Regions from separate parts of the Homo sapiens genome. Here region 2 is linked to region 1. The links come from fine-mapping of genetic effects on gene expression. A gene starts in region 1. The other region holds a variant in brackets. All regions are shown on one strand. Distances are between the middles of the regions.

The links. PIP is the estimated chance that this variant, and not a neighbour inherited with it, causes the effect.
Region 2: its variant is fine-mapped to the expression of CSRP2 in tibial artery (GTEx, PIP above 0.99). The same link has a PIP of 0.9 or more in spleen.

Annotation. Positions count from the first base shown.
Region 1 is chr12:76,875,264-76,884,577 of GRCh38, reverse strand. It overlaps CSRP2 (cysteine and glycine rich protein 2), which reads left to right and starts at 5,559. Exons shown (of 6, transcript NM_001321.3): 1 at 5,559-5,640. It overlaps LOC124902971 (a long non-coding RNA gene), which reads right to left and starts at 6,219. Exons shown (of 2, transcript XR_007063380.1): 1 at 5,928-6,219; 2 at 3,113-4,690. RefSeq lists silencers at 5,290-5,339, 5,370-5,799.
Region 2 is chr12:76,901,219-76,910,532 of GRCh38, reverse strand. No RefSeq gene overlaps it. Among named protein-coding and RNA genes, the nearest start is that of CSRP2, 27 kb to the right of the region's middle. The variant A/T (reference allele first, on the strand shown) is at 4,915.

The sequences.
Region 1 (9,314 bases):
TTTTTATGTAATCTTTAGCAAGGATTTTGGAATCTATGTAAAAGTTAGAAAGTAAACACATATATATATATTTATAAAATGGTATATCTTATCACAAGTGAGATAATAAAAAACATTGTTTAACGCATCCTCTGTTGCTCACATTACAGTTTTTTAGGGGAGAAACTAAGCTTTCTAGTGGTGGTAGCTTTCAAAATTTCTTTCCATTTCTCATCAGAACAGTAGCTAGAGACAGAAGTTAACATTTGTGAGAAATTTCAGAAGTGTCATCCTTCTAAAATATTTCATTCTGTGCATGTATACACAATCATATGTTTACTCAATGTTGTCCAATTACTAAGAGGTCAAGTAGGGTAAGGACTGAAAAATAGCAGTTGGGGGTTTGGCAATTAGGAACTCTCCAATGACCACAGTGAGAGTCTCAGTATCTCTAACGAGGTTGCAGTCAAAGTGTCAGCCAGGGCTGGAGTCATTTCAAAGCTTGACAGTACTGTACTGTAATATCTCCTTCCAAGCTCACTCATATTTTTGTTGGCAGAAGGCTTTAGCTCCTCTGGGACTGTTGGCCACAGGCCACTGTTCTTAACTGCTTGAGTGTCCTCCTGACATGGCAGCTGGCTTTCCCCATAGCAGTGATGAAACACACACACACACACACACACATGTTGGCAGGATGTTGGAGATGGGGGAGGATGGATAAAAGAAAAGGGTGGGGGAAGAATGAGGAAAAAGTTGTCACAAAGCGTTTTTTGACTTAGTCTCAAAATCATGCACTTCATTCTATTTTCTAGAAGCAAGGCACTAAATCTAGCCCGCACCCAAGGGTAAGGGCATGAATTAAATTCTACCTGTTGAAGGGGGGAGTAACAAAGAATCCATGGACATGATTTTAAGCCATCACAATCTGTTGGGAGTCCTAACTGCAAGTAACAGAAAATCCATCTCAAAATGGATTAAACAGCAATGGGGACTCATTGGCTCCCATAATGAAAAAGCCCTGCAGGTAGGTAAACTTGGTGAATACTTGTTCAGAGCTCTGTTTTCTCTGTCCTCTTGTCTGTGTCAAGTCATCCGTGGCCAGGTTCCTAGCAAAAATGACTGCAACCACTCTAAGGCCTCCTCCATGCACATAGCACATTCCAGAATAGGCTAGCTTGGCTCTGACTCCGCACCCCAGCAGAGTTCTGAGATTCACTCTAATTGGATGGGCTTAGGTCACGTGCTTACCATCCCCAAGCCGGGGCCTCAAATGCCTTGACTGGATCCAGTGCTCCACCCTGAAACAGGACCATGAACTCACATGCCTGAAACCACACAGAGAGGAATGGATGCTACAGAGGCAATCACAAATACCTACTACACGACTCAGGGATATTTATGTCAGCTTTTAAAAATACGGGGTGAGCAGAATTTTTGTCATTTGAAAGGAAAGAAAGCAATAGAGCCTGAAATTGAACAGCAAGGGAGTACAATCACGTGCCACATGAAGATTTTCAATCAACAACAGATCACAAATATGAGGGTGGTCCTGTAACACTACAATACTGTGTTTTTGCTGTACCTTTTCTATATTTAGATATGTTTAGATACACAAATACTATTGTGTTGCCATTGCCTGTGGTGTTCTGTACAGTCACATGCTGTACAGGTTTGTAGCCCATGAGCAATAGGCTATACCTTAGGCCATATGGTGTAGGTTTGTGTAAGTATACTCTACAATGTTGGCATAATGGTAAAATTGTCTCATGATGCATTCCTTAGAACCTGTTCCCATCACTAAGTGGCACATGACTGTATAACTAAAAAATGCCAAAGAAATGGATCAAAAGCCTAGGCAGAGTGGACACTGTTGGTAGGGAGTGGGAGAACCATTTGCTCCTCCAAGATCAGGGACAGCAAGTACAAACATAGGAGAAAACATGGAAGCTTCGAGGCAAAGTGGAGGAAGGTTGAGGAAATGTTGGTGACTGGCTGTGAATGTGAATGAAGGAGAAGAAGGTGATGTCACCAGCTGAAAAAGAGGGAGAAAAGTGAGATAAAGGAATTAAGGGGTTAAGATAAGATGGATAGAATATGCTGTCTGGGAAGTTAATGGTGTCTTTCTTACTAGTAGAACTAGAAAAACTCTGCTATAATATGAAAGCAGAAGCAGAGCTCAAAAAGATAGAAAGCTCTGGTTGAAAAGAAGAAATAAATAACATCATAATAGAAGATAATAGCACTGAATGAAAATAATGCCTACTGGAGAAAGAGAGTTAGGAAATGAAGCAAGTATAAGAAAGTAGGAGTTTATAGCAGGTTAAAAAAAGCAACTATGACAAATATCAAGAATAAGATACTCTAATCTACCTTCCAACATTTAAGCATATATCACTTACATTATTCTTTTCTCTGTCAGATAATAAATCACAGAGTATTAGGGTTAAGTATGAGTAATTTTTAATTCCCACAACTGCTGCTAAATCTTAGCTAAGAAATAAGGTAGAAAAACTGCTTCTTTTTGTGTTATTAAATGTGTAGGTTAGCAAAGTGCAAATTGTTTCCCTTTTTTTCATACTAAAATCATTATAATAAGACATTCCTCTTCACTATAGCTTTCTTGCCTTCTGGGAAGAAAGCCTTGCCCTAAAATAAAGAGGCTTTGTGTTTAAATTCACATTCATCTGATTCAGAGTTTTGTTAAGAAAAAGGGGCATGAAATAAAAATAATAAAAATATTTTTAAAATCTACGTTTGAAGCACAAGGTCATGACAAAAGGCAACAACCTTGGTTCAACTTGCCTTAGGACAGTGACCTTGAGAGAGGGCTTTGATTTGAAATTGGTTGATGAATTCCAGAGAATAGAGTTGTTACAAGTATAATACACATTTTGAGTGGGAAAAAGAAATAGCCTGCTGGACACATTTAACCTTTGATTCTGCCTATTACAAGGTTGAAGGGGTCAAACAGACTAGGACCATGTGGACTTAAGGGTTTATCCTTCTCCTTGAGGACACATTTTTCCCACTATCCTTCTGCAGGCGCGCAGATGCTTCCTACTGAAGACTCTTAATTGTTTTGGAAAACACTCCATACCTTCTTAATAGCAAGCCCTCAAGAAGGCAACATGAGTACTTAGCAAAGCACAATTTTATTTCTTTCTTGAGAGGCAAAAAGGACATCAAGATATCTTTGCTTAACATAACAACCATCAATTATTCAGTATTTACCATGTGCCAGGTGCTATGTTTGGCATTTTACATACATCACCCAATTTAATCCTCATAACAACACTACAAGATGTGTAGAATTATCTTTTTACAGATAAAGAAACAGATGCATAGAGGTCAAGTACTTAGCCCAAGCTTACAAAACTGATAGGTGGCAGAGCTGTATGTTGAAATCATGTGTGTTTGATTCCAAAGCCCATACTCTTTCTTTTGCACCACTCTGTCTAAAAACTCTTAAATAATTTCTTCATGTTCATAACTAAAAGAGTCAACAGTTTAAATAGATGTTTAAAGAAAATAAATATTTTTTAAATGTTGATAAATACAAATACAGATTTGTTCAAAATCACACGTTGTATATCATCTGCAGACTCAGTGTGAAGTACACGGAGACAAACACATACAGGGACAGACAGCAGAAACACTTTTAGGTCAGAAACAAGCCCAATTTCTTTTTTGTTTTGTTTTGTTTTTTTGAGACGGAGTCTCCCTCTGTCACTCAGGCTGGAGTGCATTGACGTGATCTCCACTCACTGCAACCTCCACCTCTCAGGTTCAAGTGATTCTCCTGCCTCAGCCTCCAAGTAGCTGGGATTACAGACATGTGCCACCACGCCCGGCCAACAAGCCCAATTTCAAATGATAAGACATGGCTATGGAATTTAGGGACAACATGAGCTTGACGGAAAGCAAACAGCTCAGGTTTGGGAGGCCCCTTCCACAAAGAGGCATTGAGAAGAACTCAGGGTAGGAGAGAAAGGGCAGTGGTTTGCTGCAGTGAGACTCACTGATACAGTTTCATTCAGTAGAAGCACTAGGCAAACTTATACAAGAAAAAATAAACATTGTAAGCAGCTGAGCTAAAGCGAATGTAGAATCTGAGGGACTGAATTTTCCTGTTGGCCCGTGAGTCAAGTCACTTACACTAGCTGATATCACTGAAATAAGGATTGCCCATATTTAGAAAAGCTCACAGCAGGCAAGAATGCTTTCCAGACTCCTGCCACAGTATCAGGAGATGTCAATCACCACTATGTGTTTTTGGACAGTACTTGGTGGACAGAGAACAAGGCAGCTATAATGAGTTTATCCTGGATTGGCCCCAGCATATAAAATAAAACAATAATAATATTATAAGTCGGTTCTGTACGTTGTCATGCGGATATGTGCTCCCTGCCCTCTCCCCAAGAGGGCATTTGGCAATGTCCAGAGACTTTTTGATTGTCACAACGTCGGGGGCAGGTTGCAACTGGCATCTAGTGGGTGGAGGCCTCCTACAATGCACAGGACAGCCCCCTACAATAAAGAATTATCCAGCCCAAGATGTCAATGGTGTGGAGGATGAGAAACTCTGGACCAGAGGAGGCAATAGCATTTATGGCATGAGGGGGTTTTGGTCACTGACTTTTTTGAACTCCCCACTCCGCAAGTATCAGTTCTCCGGGATCATTGCTTCTGGCAGGAGAGGTCATGAGGAGGCCTAGAATATGAACCAGATAGAGATTGCATTGTTTATTTTCCTTTTCATCTAAAACAATAAATCATCCTGTAGCTTAGGCATTAGGTCCCTTCGGATGTCACGGTATCCTTGTGCTTTTCTGACATCAACACATATAAATACAGGGCCTGTGGCGCCCGGGGTTTCTGCCTGGGTTTAGGTTTCTTCCCCCTCAGCATCGCGTGCTGTGCCCTGGTGGAGGGGAAGAGCGAAACACTTTGGGAATGGGGCGTTTTCGTAACGTCATTTATTTAGTCTAGATGAATTTTGCTCTTTAAGAATAAGAAGTTGTGGATTCCCAGAAGCTGGAAATCGGACGAGAGAATATGCGTTAACTAGGGAAGTTAATCACGTTGAGTTTACTGACAAGGACAAGGCAAGGGGGAGGTGGCGGAAAGCCCCGTTTGGCTGACTTTCTACTGCTGGAGCCTCCCGGCCCATGACTGTCTCCGCGAAGAGGGGGATCGGCGCTCGCGGTGGACAGGTCCGACGCAGGGCGGCGGGGGCCACTTTCCAGCGGGACCGTCCCGCCGCCGGGCCTCCCTGGAGGGGAAGGAAGTCCCTCTCCAAGTCCCAGTGGCTTTTGGAACTGCCGGGTCCCTTTGGGAGGGAGCGGTCCCGGGACGTGGGAAGATGCCGGGCGGGCGGGAAGCTGCAGGAAGAGGCGGGCCTCCTGCCTTTTGTCTCCTGGTGGCTAGCCCGGAGCGGGCAGAGGGCAGCCCGCCCGCTACACGCCCCAGCCCGGCAAGCGGCTCCGGGAATCCGGCGGGCGGGGCTGGGAGGAGGGCGGGGCGGACACAGGCCGCGCCCACCGAGCGCTCTTTAAAAGGCACCGGCGCGCGCTTCGCCTGGGATCTCGGACTCCCTGGACCCTCCCTCCAGCCCAGCCTCGCTAGCTCCGCCTGCGGTACGTGCTCCCGCCTCCGACTCAAGTGAGTAGGGGCGGTGGGGCGGTTCCGCGGCGCCGCCAACCCCGGGGCGGGAGTTGCAGGGGGTTTCCACCGCCTCCCGGGGTCGTGCTGTCGCCCGGCCGGCGCGCCCCGGTCTCCTCCGACATCCCCATCCCGGTCCGCATTTGTGCCCCTGCCAGCCTTCTCATCCCTGCGCCCCAGATTTTCTCTCTCTTATCCCCCAAACACACCTGCCCTTGTCCCCGAGGCCGTCCAGGCCATGCCCTGGGATCCCAGGCCCGCGGGGCAGGTAAATAATCTTATATGACCTTTAATTTCTCCATACTGGTTTCTCTGGGAGAGAGGCGGGTTGTGAGTTTCGCGTTTCTGCTAATCCGCCTCTTAGCAGCCGTCGGTCCCCTCGTCCAGCGGCAGGCTCTCTCTGGGGTGGGGGTCGGAGTCTCAGGGCCCCCTCTGCCCGGAGTGTGGTGAGCACCGAGGGCGACCTTACTGGGTTCTGTCCCCTAGGGGTGGAATGGGGCTTCTACATCCCCCCGAGCCCAGGGTACTGCTCCTGCCGCCGTACCGGGCTCCTGGCATCCCCATTGTTTGGTGGTGTCTGCCCACCCAGCACCGAACCCCTCTATGTTGAAGGAACAGCAGGGAATGTCAATCACTTACTCCTAGCTTTTTCCAGAACTTTCTACGATTCAGGTACAAAGAAGAATGCAAGAATGCTTGGTTGTGAAATTATGCGACAGGTCCTGCGAATCACATTCTGGGTTCTCCAGAGCCAGATTCAGGAGCTCCACGTAGGCACCCCCTGGGGGCGGGGGCGGGCTTTCTAAACCGGCGGATCCCTTTCCCCCTTCTAAGCCAGGACATTTGTTAAACGATTTTTACTTAAATGGCTACCCAAAATGTTTAACCTGTTTTATTTGCAGTCTGCAAACCAAGCACATTTTCCCTTTATAAATGCTTTTCGGTACAGAATTTTTTTTGGGGGGTGGGGGGGTGGGGCGGGGGCAGTTAGTAATTTTTTAACCCGGGCAGCGAAAATCGTCGTATTTAGTTCTTGACTTTTCCAATTAACCTGTTTTAAAACTCTCCTCATAAAATGCCAAGAATTCAAATAGGACAGCCACAAAGTTGGCTGTACTTTGACTCACGTTTTTCAAGAAAGAATTGGGTGATAGATTTTGAAAGGGAGAATCTAACATAGTTTCAGAACTGCATGCCAAGCTACAAAGAATGTTGTGAAGTACTAAGTGGTCTCCCCCAGTACTCCTGGGGTCATCGCTCTCGTCCATTGTCACTGATACTTTGTCAGTATTTCTCTGGGTCCTTTCTCCTCTGCATTGTAGTTTTCTTTGCTCTTTTGGTTCTGTGTTACCTTTGAGACCAGACCTGCATCACATGAGTCTTTGAAACTCACAGTGCTTGCTTGGGTACCTTGGACAATTGACTGAAAGAAGGAGCGAATAAGGTTGTGATTATAGGGAACAAAAATATAATTTGACTCACACAATAGGTATTTGTTTGCAGATTTGATCTAAAGTTCGTATCATAAATTTTTAATGCATTTCTCCGAATGTATTTAACAAATATTGATTGATACTGGTATAGGCTAAGTACTGTGCTGAAAGCAGTACTTGCTGGAGGCCTGTCCTGATGAAATTGCAAAATCACTTGGATTTGGGGGAGATTGAATTTTATCCTAAAACAGCAAGAATGTTGGTGTAGAGTAGAGGACAGCAATAAATGAGGAGTTTTAGAAGCCTGAGTCCAGAGGCAACTCTGACACTAAATTGCTATAGTGATCTGGGTCTCTAGGTTTTCTTCTTTGTCAAAAGTGAGGTGAATCAAATGAACCCCAAAAGGGAGCCCCCTATGGGAGAGGAGGCATGGCTGAAAGGGGGAGGAACGAAGCCAGGCAGGACCAAATTCACACCTCAACTCCAGTACCCATTGGTTTGATGCCCTTGGGCAAATTAACTTTACTCTTTGGCCTCAATACTTCATCATGTAAAATGGGTGTAGTGGCACATGCCTTGCAGGGTTGTCATAAGGCCTGTTGATACTTGTACAAAGCCCAGCCCAGCCTGGGAGTAGTTCCTTGTAATTAGACAAAGTTGTGCACTTGGTTGAATATATGTGGGAAAAGGCTATCAGTGAAAGTCTGTTTCAGGAGAGAGCTGGCTCACACCTGAAGAGCGTTTCCTAGACCTTGCCTGGAGGCCAGCTTTCTTCTCTGTGCAGATGTTCACAGGTTTCCTCAAGGCACCTTACCCTGACTGCCAGCATGCCATCCCTTGGGTTCTGTTGGGTGGGGATCCCCAGACACCTCTGGATCTTTGATTACCTAGGTGGGGTTTCTGACTTTTTATATCATGGCACTCCTGTGAGGCCTCCAGACCCCTTCTCAAAATGACGTAACATAAAGTATGTGGTACCAAGTTCCCCAACCCCCAGAATTAAAAGGAATTGTGGCCTTTGGGTTAAGAATCCTGAATTAAGGGAATATTTCTCAGTCTGGATAGTGGAGAAGCTGGGCACAATTTCTTTTTTTTATATTTTTTCCTTTTCAAATTCCTTTTTACCACAGGCACAATTTCTGATTGTTAAAAATTTTATTGTTGTAAGTCACAGAGGAAGAACTAATAGAAGTACATGGTGAATGATCTGGAAAGGATATCAGGTTCCTTGTTTTTTTGTTTACAATCTTATTGTGCCAACAATACTATTGTCTTCGACTAATAAGAACAGACACCATGTAATACATTAGGGCCAAATTACTTCCCAGTTCACTATAGGAAAGAGGGCTTCATGGTGGTTTCACAGTACTTCCAAAAGAAAATAAGCAGAGAGAATTGAATCCTCATCCAGCACACGGCAGTGCAGGAACTACTCAGCTTAAGAAGAACCTATGCCATAGCCATGGAGGTCGGTACTACATCTGTATTGCTACCAGGGGTTTAGTTTAGCAAAACATCAGTGAAATAATTTTGAATTGGAATTTTATTGGTATTCATTTTTAAGTTGAATTGATAATTTTATTTTGGTTTCACAGTTATGAGTCATTTAATAGCTCTATGCCTCAGTTTCCCCACTCATAAAATGAGAATAGTGGTAGTGCTTACTTTAGTTGTTATGAGGATTAAATGAGGTAATATAAACATAAGTAAAGCATATATTAAGCTTTATAGAAGTATTTGTAATTATTACCTGTCATGTGGCAGACACTATTCTAGGTGTTTTGCATATATTGTTTAATCTAAAAACTGCCTTATTGTATAAATAAGCATTGTCCCCATTTTTAAAATGAGAAAACTAGCAGATCAAATGAACAACCTGTGATCATTTGGCAAATAAACAAGAGTCTCAGCATATATATCTAGGTCTGATTCCATGAAAAAATCGTGCAAATATTAAATTGTTTGAATAATTAAATAACTTGTAGTTTTGCACAGATTGTGGATTGCTATGGCAGATGTTGGGGATCAGGGTTACTGAGCTTATAGCATAGTTGCATTTTAATTACAATATGGGATTTGGCAGATAGTGATTCAAATCTGTGTCGAATTTTGCTGCACTCTAAGTTGAAGACACGAGTGGTAGCAGAATACAGAAGTAGTAAGAATGGTGAGGCTGAGGTACACACAGGAGTGTTCACTAGATTAGAAGAGAGTTTTCCTTCAGTGGGGTTAGATTTAGGT
Region 2 (9,314 bases), 26 kb before region 1:
AAAATGTGTGTGTGTATATATATATATATATATATATATATATATATATATGTCACACAAATTAAGAAAAAATGTTAGGAAATATCACCAGCAGGCTCAGAAATCCAAAACCCATTAAAAATGAATCTATAGTTGAACACAACCTGAATTTCATTAAGCTTCTAATCTCGAGAAACAACTTTCTGGTGACTCCTCAAAACAGGGTGGTTAAAAAAAAATGTAATCTCATGTAACTGAATATTACATACAATAAACCAGTTAAATGCTGGGGAGAAAACTAACAAAAATGCAATCCCTGGTTATAGATCAAGAGTTCCCAAACTTGGAATTTCCTTGGATGCTTTAAAAAAAAACACTGAGGTCTAAATCCACTTCAAACATTTGCATTTAACTGGTGTGGAGTGTAGCCTGGACATTGGGACTCTTTAAAGTTCTTCGGGTGCTCCTAAAATGCCACATAATTTGAGAAGCATTGCTATAGACATTGCTTTGGTTATTACTAAATATTAGGGCTATTGCCTCTTAAAAAGCAATCATAGTTCCTGAGATTAAAGCAACCATCTACATATTCCCACTGTTTCAAAAAGTGTATCATGTCATTAAACTACAGATTTGAGAGAACAGGTCAGAAATCAAATCTTTTTACCCCAAAGGAAAATATTATCTAACTGTATCCAAAGAACTTCTATAATCCTACTTGAACAAGTTAATTCCTAGACTAGACCTTGATATCCTCATGTGTAAAATAGAGACAATAATTCCTACTTTATAAGGTTGTTCTATCAATTATATAAGATAATGCTTATGAACTGATAGTTGGTTCTTTTAATAACTATTTTTTATAAATCTGATATTCAGTGATTATAGTTTTTCCTTAAAGCCATAGCTAGTAACTCTAGCTAATATTAACCTCTCTCCTTTTTTACATTACAGCGCTCCAATTTCTTTTGTTTGTTTGTTTTTTCTTTTTGAGACAGAGTCTTGCTCTGTCACCCAGACTGGAAGTGCAGTGCCCCAGTCTCAGCCCACTGCAACCTCCACCCCCTGGGCTCAAGCAATCAGTGCTCAGCGATCCCAAAGTGCTCGGATTACAGGCGTGAGCCACCATGCCTGGCCTAGAGTGCTTGAATTTCAAATGCTTTATTTTATATTGTCTTTTAATTGCTTAATGACTTGTGGTCTGACTAGATAGACAAGAATTATTTGGAAAGAAGGGAGATTAAAAGGCCATTTATCAGCAATGATAAAAGCTGCTTGCTTCTCATACAATTTACTACAACATATTAGGTCGGTGCAAAAGTAATTGCAGTTTTTGCCACTAAAAGTAATATTTAGGTTGAGAGACTCGATCCTACAATTATGAGAAGAAACTAGCAATGAATTTGAAAGTAGCATCCAGAAAAGCCAATGGATCAGCAGTTGGGAGAGGACTGAGTCACATTTTCCTTTTTAAAGGTAGAATAAGCCATATTTTGTGAATTAGTTTTGTCTTGCAGCTGTTAATAAATTACCAGAAACTTGGTGGCTTAAACATACCAGTTTATTATCTTATAGTTCTGTGCATTAGAAGTCTGACATGGATCCCACTGGGCTGAGATCAAGGTGCCAACAGGGTGCATCCCTTTCTGAGGACTCAAGAGGAGAATCTGTTTCTTTGCCTTTTCCAGCTTCTAGAGTTCCGTCCCTAACTCTTGGCTCCCTCCATGAGTCTTCAGAGCTGGCAATGTCAAGCAGCGTCCTTATGCTACCAACTCTCTGGGTCTCTTTCCTGTTGTCACAAAAGGAGTCCCTCTGACTTCTTTTGTGTCTCCTCTTCCACTTTCATTGTTATTTATTTATATTTTTGAGACAGGGTCTTGCTCTGTCACCCAGGCTGAGTGCAGTAGTGTGATTATAGCTCACTGCAGCCTTGTCCTCCCGGGCTCAAGGAATCCTCCCACCTCAGCCTCTTAAGTAGCTAGGACCACAGGTGCACTACCATGCCTGGCTAATTTTTTTTAACATTTGTAGAGCCTGGGGGAGGGGGATGGTGAGGTGGGAGGAACAAGGGGCGGGAGATGGGGGAGAGCTCTTTGTTGCTCATGCTGGTCTTGAACTCCTGGTCTCAAGCGATCCCCCCAGCTTCAGCCTCCCAGAGCACTGGGATTACAGGGATGAGCCACTGCACCCGGCTCCTCTTCCACTTCTAAGGACCCTGTGATTACAATGTGCCCACCTATGTCAGAGACATCCTAACCAGAGTGATTTCACCTTGAATAAAAGCCAGATAAAGCAAGACCTGCTGGGTTACATTTCCAGGAAGTTAGGCGTTATTGATCACAAGATGTTTATGGTTGAGGAAACGAGCTAATGGGAAAAGGCATTCTTAGTTTAAAAATAGGTTTCCCTCTAAAGGTAATAGTATCCTCATAAATTCTTGCTAAAAGTAATAATTGCACAAGAGAATAGTAATACTAAGTCTGTCATAAGCTCAACACAACCTTTTGTAATAAAGTACACTATTCTTAGCCTTAATATCCCATGTAAGTAAGCCTTATGTCTGAGGTAGGGACATTCCTCCTCTTGCTTTCTCAGCAAGCCCTACTCTGTAATAGAGTATTTTCTAAGAAACTATTTTAACTTCACTATATTCTGAGACTCACTCTGAATTCTCTCCTATGTGAGATCCAAGAACTCACTCCTGTGGTCTGGGATGAGATCCCTTTTCTGGTAACACATAGGTAATCCAGGCTTCTCTCCCTACCTTAGCTGATTGGCAAACTTATTCCATCTTAATTCTCCTTTGCCATGTGACATATTTACATAACAACAACAATGGAAAGAGAAGTCAAACTTGACTGCCAATTACATATCAGTGATCATCTAATCTCTCAGGTCAGTGAAGACTCACTGTTATCCCAATTCCAGGGATTAGGATGTGGACATCTTTGGGGGCCCCTGAGAAGCTAAATAGGATCAATAGTTTATAAAGAAGTAACATCTAATACACAACAAATTAAGATAACAGTAACTCACTGAATCATGCACTCACAAGGCAACCATGCCTCTTCTCCTCTCTACTTAATTTATGGTAGACATTGCAAATCCACCAGGTAAAACTATAACCTCAGATCTTACACAGAGTATGCTAAGAATCACCAGTGAGTACAATTAATCAAATTGGCATGCAAACTAAAATCTATTTTCCATCCTAAATTTGAACAGTTGTGAGGGCAAGAGACTTTCTCTTAGGGGCATTTTTTGGAATAAGGTGATGATGTAACTTTTTAAAATTGGCAGACCAAAGGAATCCCAGCTGAGCTAAATACAGAGATTATAATAAGAAAATAAAATAAGTGAAATACTTCAACCATTGACAGAAATCTGTGTTTCAATGATCACCTGTAGAGAAGTCATTTGGTGGCCAAAAAAAATCTTCATGTATTTCTAGCCCTGCCCACACAACACAAAGCCTTCTCTTGAGATCTGTTATTATGCGCCTCTATTCTTCCTAAAAGGATATTTTGCTCAGAAATAGATTTGGATAGATGTGCATGTGTAGGTATTTTAAAGCTTATGTTACTCTAAAATAAAACTCTATGGCCTTTTACAAGTATTTTATATAAGTAATCTATGATCATGGTAGAGAAATTAGAAAAAAACAAAGAAGATAGAAAAAAAAAAAAAACTCACACATAATCCTATCTGCCAGAAATAAATTTTGGTGCTTATTCTGACAAATGTGTTTACATTTATTTATTCATTTGACATATTTATTGAGCCCTGTGCCAGGCATGATCCCAGGCCTTGAGAGTACAACATGAATAAAACAGAACAACAACAAAAAAAATCTATGCCCTCGATGAGCCCAATTATGTACAAAAAAGAACATTTTAAAAACCAAAAGTTATACCATATTTTGCATATCTGTAGTTTGTAATTGGCTTTTCCTATGTCCCAGGTTTTGGAAGTATCCCCCTAATTTTGTCAGGCTGTTGTGGTTTTCCCAGTAATCTTGACTGAACTGAGAGATGAGTTCTGACTGCTACATAATTAACAGTCCAGCCTGACTTCTCTTTCCATAGTTTGTTGCTATGTGATCAGAAGAAAATCTTCTCTCAAAAAAATCGAGAGTACTGTCTCTGAATTTCTTTAGACCACAAAGCCTACTCAGGGAATTAAATAGAACTTCATTTTATCTTATCCCAGTGTTAAAAGAAAAACTTTAGCTGAATTAAATTTAAAGGAGTTTGAGTAATGAACGACTCGCGAATCAGGCAGCCCCCAGAATCACAGCAGATTTACAGAGACTCCAGGGGTGCCTCGTGGTCAGAACAAATTTATAGACAAAAAATGTAATGTATAGAAATCAAAAGTGAAGTACAGAAACAGCTGGATTGGCTACAGGTTGGCGTTTGCCTTATTTAAACACAGTTTGAACACTCAGCAGCATATGAGTGGTTGAAGTACACTGCTGGAATTGGCCAAGACTCAGCTATTGTTACAGACGCATACTCCTATGCTAAGTTTTCAGTCTGTTAGGTTGCCGTTCATCCACAAGGACTCAAATATAAAATATGGAGTCCTGGCTGGGCACAGTGGCTCACGCCTATAACCCCAGCATTTTGGGAGGCCAAGGCAGGGGATCACCTGAGGTCAGGAGTTCGAGACCAGCCTGACCAACATGGTGAAACCCCATCTATACTAAAAATACAAAAATTAGCCAGGCGTGGTGGTGCACACCTGTAATCCCAGCTACTCGGGAGGCTGAGGCAGGAGTATCGCTTGAACCCGGGAGGTGAAAGTTGCAGTCAGCCGAGATCACGCTGCTGCACTCCAGCCTGGGCAACAAGAGCAAAACTCAGTCTCAAAAAAAAAAAAAAGAAAGAAAAGAAATATGGGGTCCTTTTCCAGCCGTATTTAGTTTGCTTTAAC[A/T]TCAGTTATTTATTGCTGCATAAAGCATCCCCCTAAACCTTAGGGGCTTACAACAACAATCATTTTTATTACTAATTCACAATTCTGGAGGTTTACTCAGTTCAGCAGGATAATTCGCTCTTGGATTTTTTTTCCCGTGCAGTTTGACAATTTCTGGTGCTAGAGTCATCTTGAAGGCTTCTTCACCCACAGGTCCTATTGATTCTGGCTATCATCTGGGATGTCAGTCAAAGTGGCAGTCTGGAACACCCACATCCAGCTATGTGGCTGAGCTTCCTCACAACATGGTGGTTGGGTTTTGAGATCAAGCGTCCAAAAGCACTAGACAGAGCTATATCACCTTTTCTGACTTAACCCCAGAAGTCATGTAGGGACACTTCTACCATGGTCACAAGCCTCTTAGATCAAGGAAAAGAAATAATAAATCCTATCCCCTTGATAGGAGGAGTATCAACATTACCCTGTAAGAGCGTATGGGATGGGATATAGTGTGTGACCATCCTTGGGAAATGGAATCTGTCACATATCTCAATCTCCTTACACCTTTAATATGTATGGTTAAAGTCAGTGGTAGCAAATTTCAGGGCCACTGTAAGTTTAAGAGAAAAGTTCTGTCACTATCGAGCCTTTCTAAAATAACACATCTCAAAGTTTCTGTTTAGTAAAAAAGAACTGACAATTGAATAGCCAGGTATTCTAATTCTAATATTTATCCCATGGATTAATGTGGAGAATTATTAGTTGATAAAAGCTTAATCAGGCTTTTTTTTCTCTTTAATTTGGAAAACTCACTCTGGAAAAGTGACCTATAGAGAATCAATCTTTCCTATATATGAAGCATGGGAAGCACTATTAATTAATTTTGGTATCCAAGGCTTCTAAGATTATAAGGTGCCAGGTGCGGTGGCTCATGCCTGTAATCCCAGCACTTTGGGAGGCCGAGGCCGGCCGGTCATGCGGTCAGGAGATCGAGACCATTCTGGCTAACGCAGTGAAACCCCGTCTCTACTAAGAATACAAAAATTAGCCTGGCGCGGTGGCGGACGCCTGTAGTCCCAGCTACTCGGGAGGCTGAGGCAGGAGAATGGCATGAACACAGGAGGCGGAGCTTGCAGTGAGCCGAGATCATGCCACTACACTCCAGCCTGGGAGACAGAGCGAGACTCTGTCTCAAAAACAAAACAAAAAAAAGGTGAATTAATCTTAATAGTGCTTCAATGTAATATTAAGAAAGCTGCCAAATGGGTTCTAGACATCTGTGGGATCTCTAGGTACATTGTTGGGAAGAGATAAACACATTAAATTATCATTTAAGTCTTACCAAAAAAAAAAAAACACATAAGAATTTAGAGGAACTATTTAATACAGGCTTGCTAAAACAAATCAACCTTCTTTTATTCAACAGTTAATGAACACCTATGATACATCTGGTACAAATACCAAGTACCCACAGTATACTAGCTGTATTAGTCTGTTTTCACGCTGCTGATAAAAGACATACCTGAGACTGGGCAATTCACAAAAGAAAGAGGTTTAATGGGCTCACAGTTCCACGTGGCTGGGGAGGCCTCACAATCATGGCAGAAGGCAAAAGGCACGTCAGGCATGGCGGCCAACAAGTAAAGAGAGCTTGTCCAAGGAAACTCCCCTTTATAAAACCATCAGAGCTCATGAGACTTATTCACTATCACAGGAACAGCATGGGAAAGACCTGCCCCCATGATTCAATTACCTCCCACTGGGTCCCTCCCACAACACGTGGGAATTCAAGATGAGATTTGGGTGAGGACATAGCCAAACCATATCACTAGCTATGTAGGATACACATAAAATAACGTAAAAATGATTGATCCTGTAGCATTTTTAATACTACAAATAAAATATTATTATAGTAAATACCATTATGAAGAAGGATTTTATATAATATATTTAATATCACAGCAGAATATCCACAACTGCAGTGTGCTATTGATCTTGTTACCAGAAAGAGGTCTTGATCCAGACCCCAAGAGAGGGTTTGTGGATCTCATGCAAGAAGGAATTTGGAGCGAGTCCACAGAGTAAGGTGCAAGTAAATTCGTTAAGAAAGTAAGGAAACAAAAGAATGGCTACTCCATAGGCAAAGCAACACTGAGGACTGCCGGTTGGCTATTTTTATGGTTATTTATTGATCATACGTTAAACAATTCATGAGTTTAGCGGAGCTGAGGGATTATTCATGAGTTTCCCAGAACTGAGGGTTCCTCACCTTTTTAGACTATATAGCGTAACTTCGGGAAATTGTCATGGCACTTGTAAACCGTCATGGCACTGATGGAAGTGCCATCTAGCATGCCAATGTATTATAATTAGCATATAATGAGCAATGAGGATGACCACAGGTCACTTGATTTTGGTGGGTTTTGGCTGGCTTCTTTACTGCATCCTGTTTTATCAGCAGGTTTTTTTTGTTTTGTTTTGTTTTGTTTTTTGAGACAGAGTTTTGTTCTTGTTGCCTGGGCTGGAGTGCAATGACATGATCTCGGCTTACTGGAACCTCTGCCTCCCAGGTTCAAGTGATTCTAGCACCTCAGTCTCCTGAGTAGCTGGGATTACAGGTGTGTGCCACCATGCCTGGCTAATTTTTGTATTTTTAGTGGAGACAGTGTTCCACCATGTTGGTCAGGCTGGTCTCAAACTCCTGACCTCAAGTGGTCCACCCACCTTGGCCTCCCAAAGTGCTGGGATTACAGGTGTGAGCCACTGTACCCTGCCTCAGCAGGGTCTTTATTATCTGTATCCTTTGATATCAGTCCTGCAGACCTCTTATCTCATCCTGTGACTAAGAATGCGTAACCTCCTAGGAATACAATTCAGCAGGTCTGAGCCTCATTTTACCCAGCACCTATTTAAGATGGGGTTGCCCTGGGCCGGGCGCGGCGGCTCACGCCTGTAATCCCAGCACTTTGGGAGGCCGAGATCATGAGGTCAGGAGATCGAGACCACGGTGAAACCCCGTCTCTACTAAAAAACACAAAAAATCAGCCGGGCGTTGTGGCGGGCGCCTGTAGTCCCAGTTACTCGGGAGGCTGAGGCAGGAGAATGGCGTGAACCCGGGAGGCGGAGCTTGCAGTAAGCCGAGATTGTGCCACTGCACTCCAGCCTGGGCGACAGAGTGAGACTCCATCTCAAAAAAAAAAAAAAAAAAAAAAAGGATAGGGTCGCTCTGGTTTGAACACCTCTGACAATCTGATTACAACGCACTCTTGTGTTGCAGAGTAAATACTTGTCCATGTCTCTTTTTTAAAAAAAGAATTACTCTACAGGTTTATAATTATTTCCTGTAGAGGGAAGAGTTAAGCTGGATGGTAGCTAAAAGCCACATATTTCTTTTGTCCTGCTGTCAAAGAAACACTTCCTTTCATGTTGTACAAATTCTCAAATCATCGCTCTAGAAGTTAACATAAAAAACAAAGAATTTCCTTCTGAGTTTAATCCTTTCTCCTTGTTACCACAAAGTCAATGAATGTGGTTTCCTTTCAACCTGTTTCTAACCATGTCTATTAAAACTGTTTCTTGTTTTAAAATTGTTTATATTCTCTAGAGTTCATTGTAATTGGAATTGAGTACCACAGTTTCCAACAACATCATGCATTAATTAATTGATAAAACCAGCCTAAGAAATCTGAGATTCCTGTGCATGACATACTCAACTTGGTAAACTTACTGGGTCATTTCACTTAGGAGGGAAAAAACAGGTGGAACAGACAAGAGAGAACTATGTCAGGAACTAGCAAAGGGAAGTCCTGTTTTGTTCCCTCTTTGTTTGGTTTTGTTTCTTGGGTTTTGATGCAGTTTTGGTTTAGTCTTGCTGGAGAAGAGGAAGGCTTTCCCTCCTATCAGGAGCCTGCTCACCATCACTGCCGTGACAGAAAAAAGGGAGCCTGGCAAACCACATTTTCCTGAAAACACAGCTTTCTCTCCCCACTACTAAAGACGGTTGAGGGAATTCACTAAAGTAGAAAGTAGAAAATTCTACTTTCTTTGTTAAATTATGTACAATGATTTTTTTTCCTGAGCAGGAAAAGGAAATGATGAAAAAGCTTTTTTCCTGGTCTCAGAATAAACTCATTGCTTGCACAGATCCATAAGTGGGGATTAGAATTACCTGTGGGCTTTTTAGGGCTTTTACTGGATATTTACTTTTATGTCTTTAATAAGTTAGAATTTTAAATAACCTAGAAACATAACATGTAGCTTAAATTTCTATCTTAACTTCTGACATTGTAAATACCATAATGTTTCAATTGTTTGTCTTCAGATAGTGCAAATGTATAGACTGTATAATGATATGTTAACCATTACTCTAAGTCTTATACACATATCCTTAGGCCTTCTTAGATCAAAGGAGTGCAAAAGTC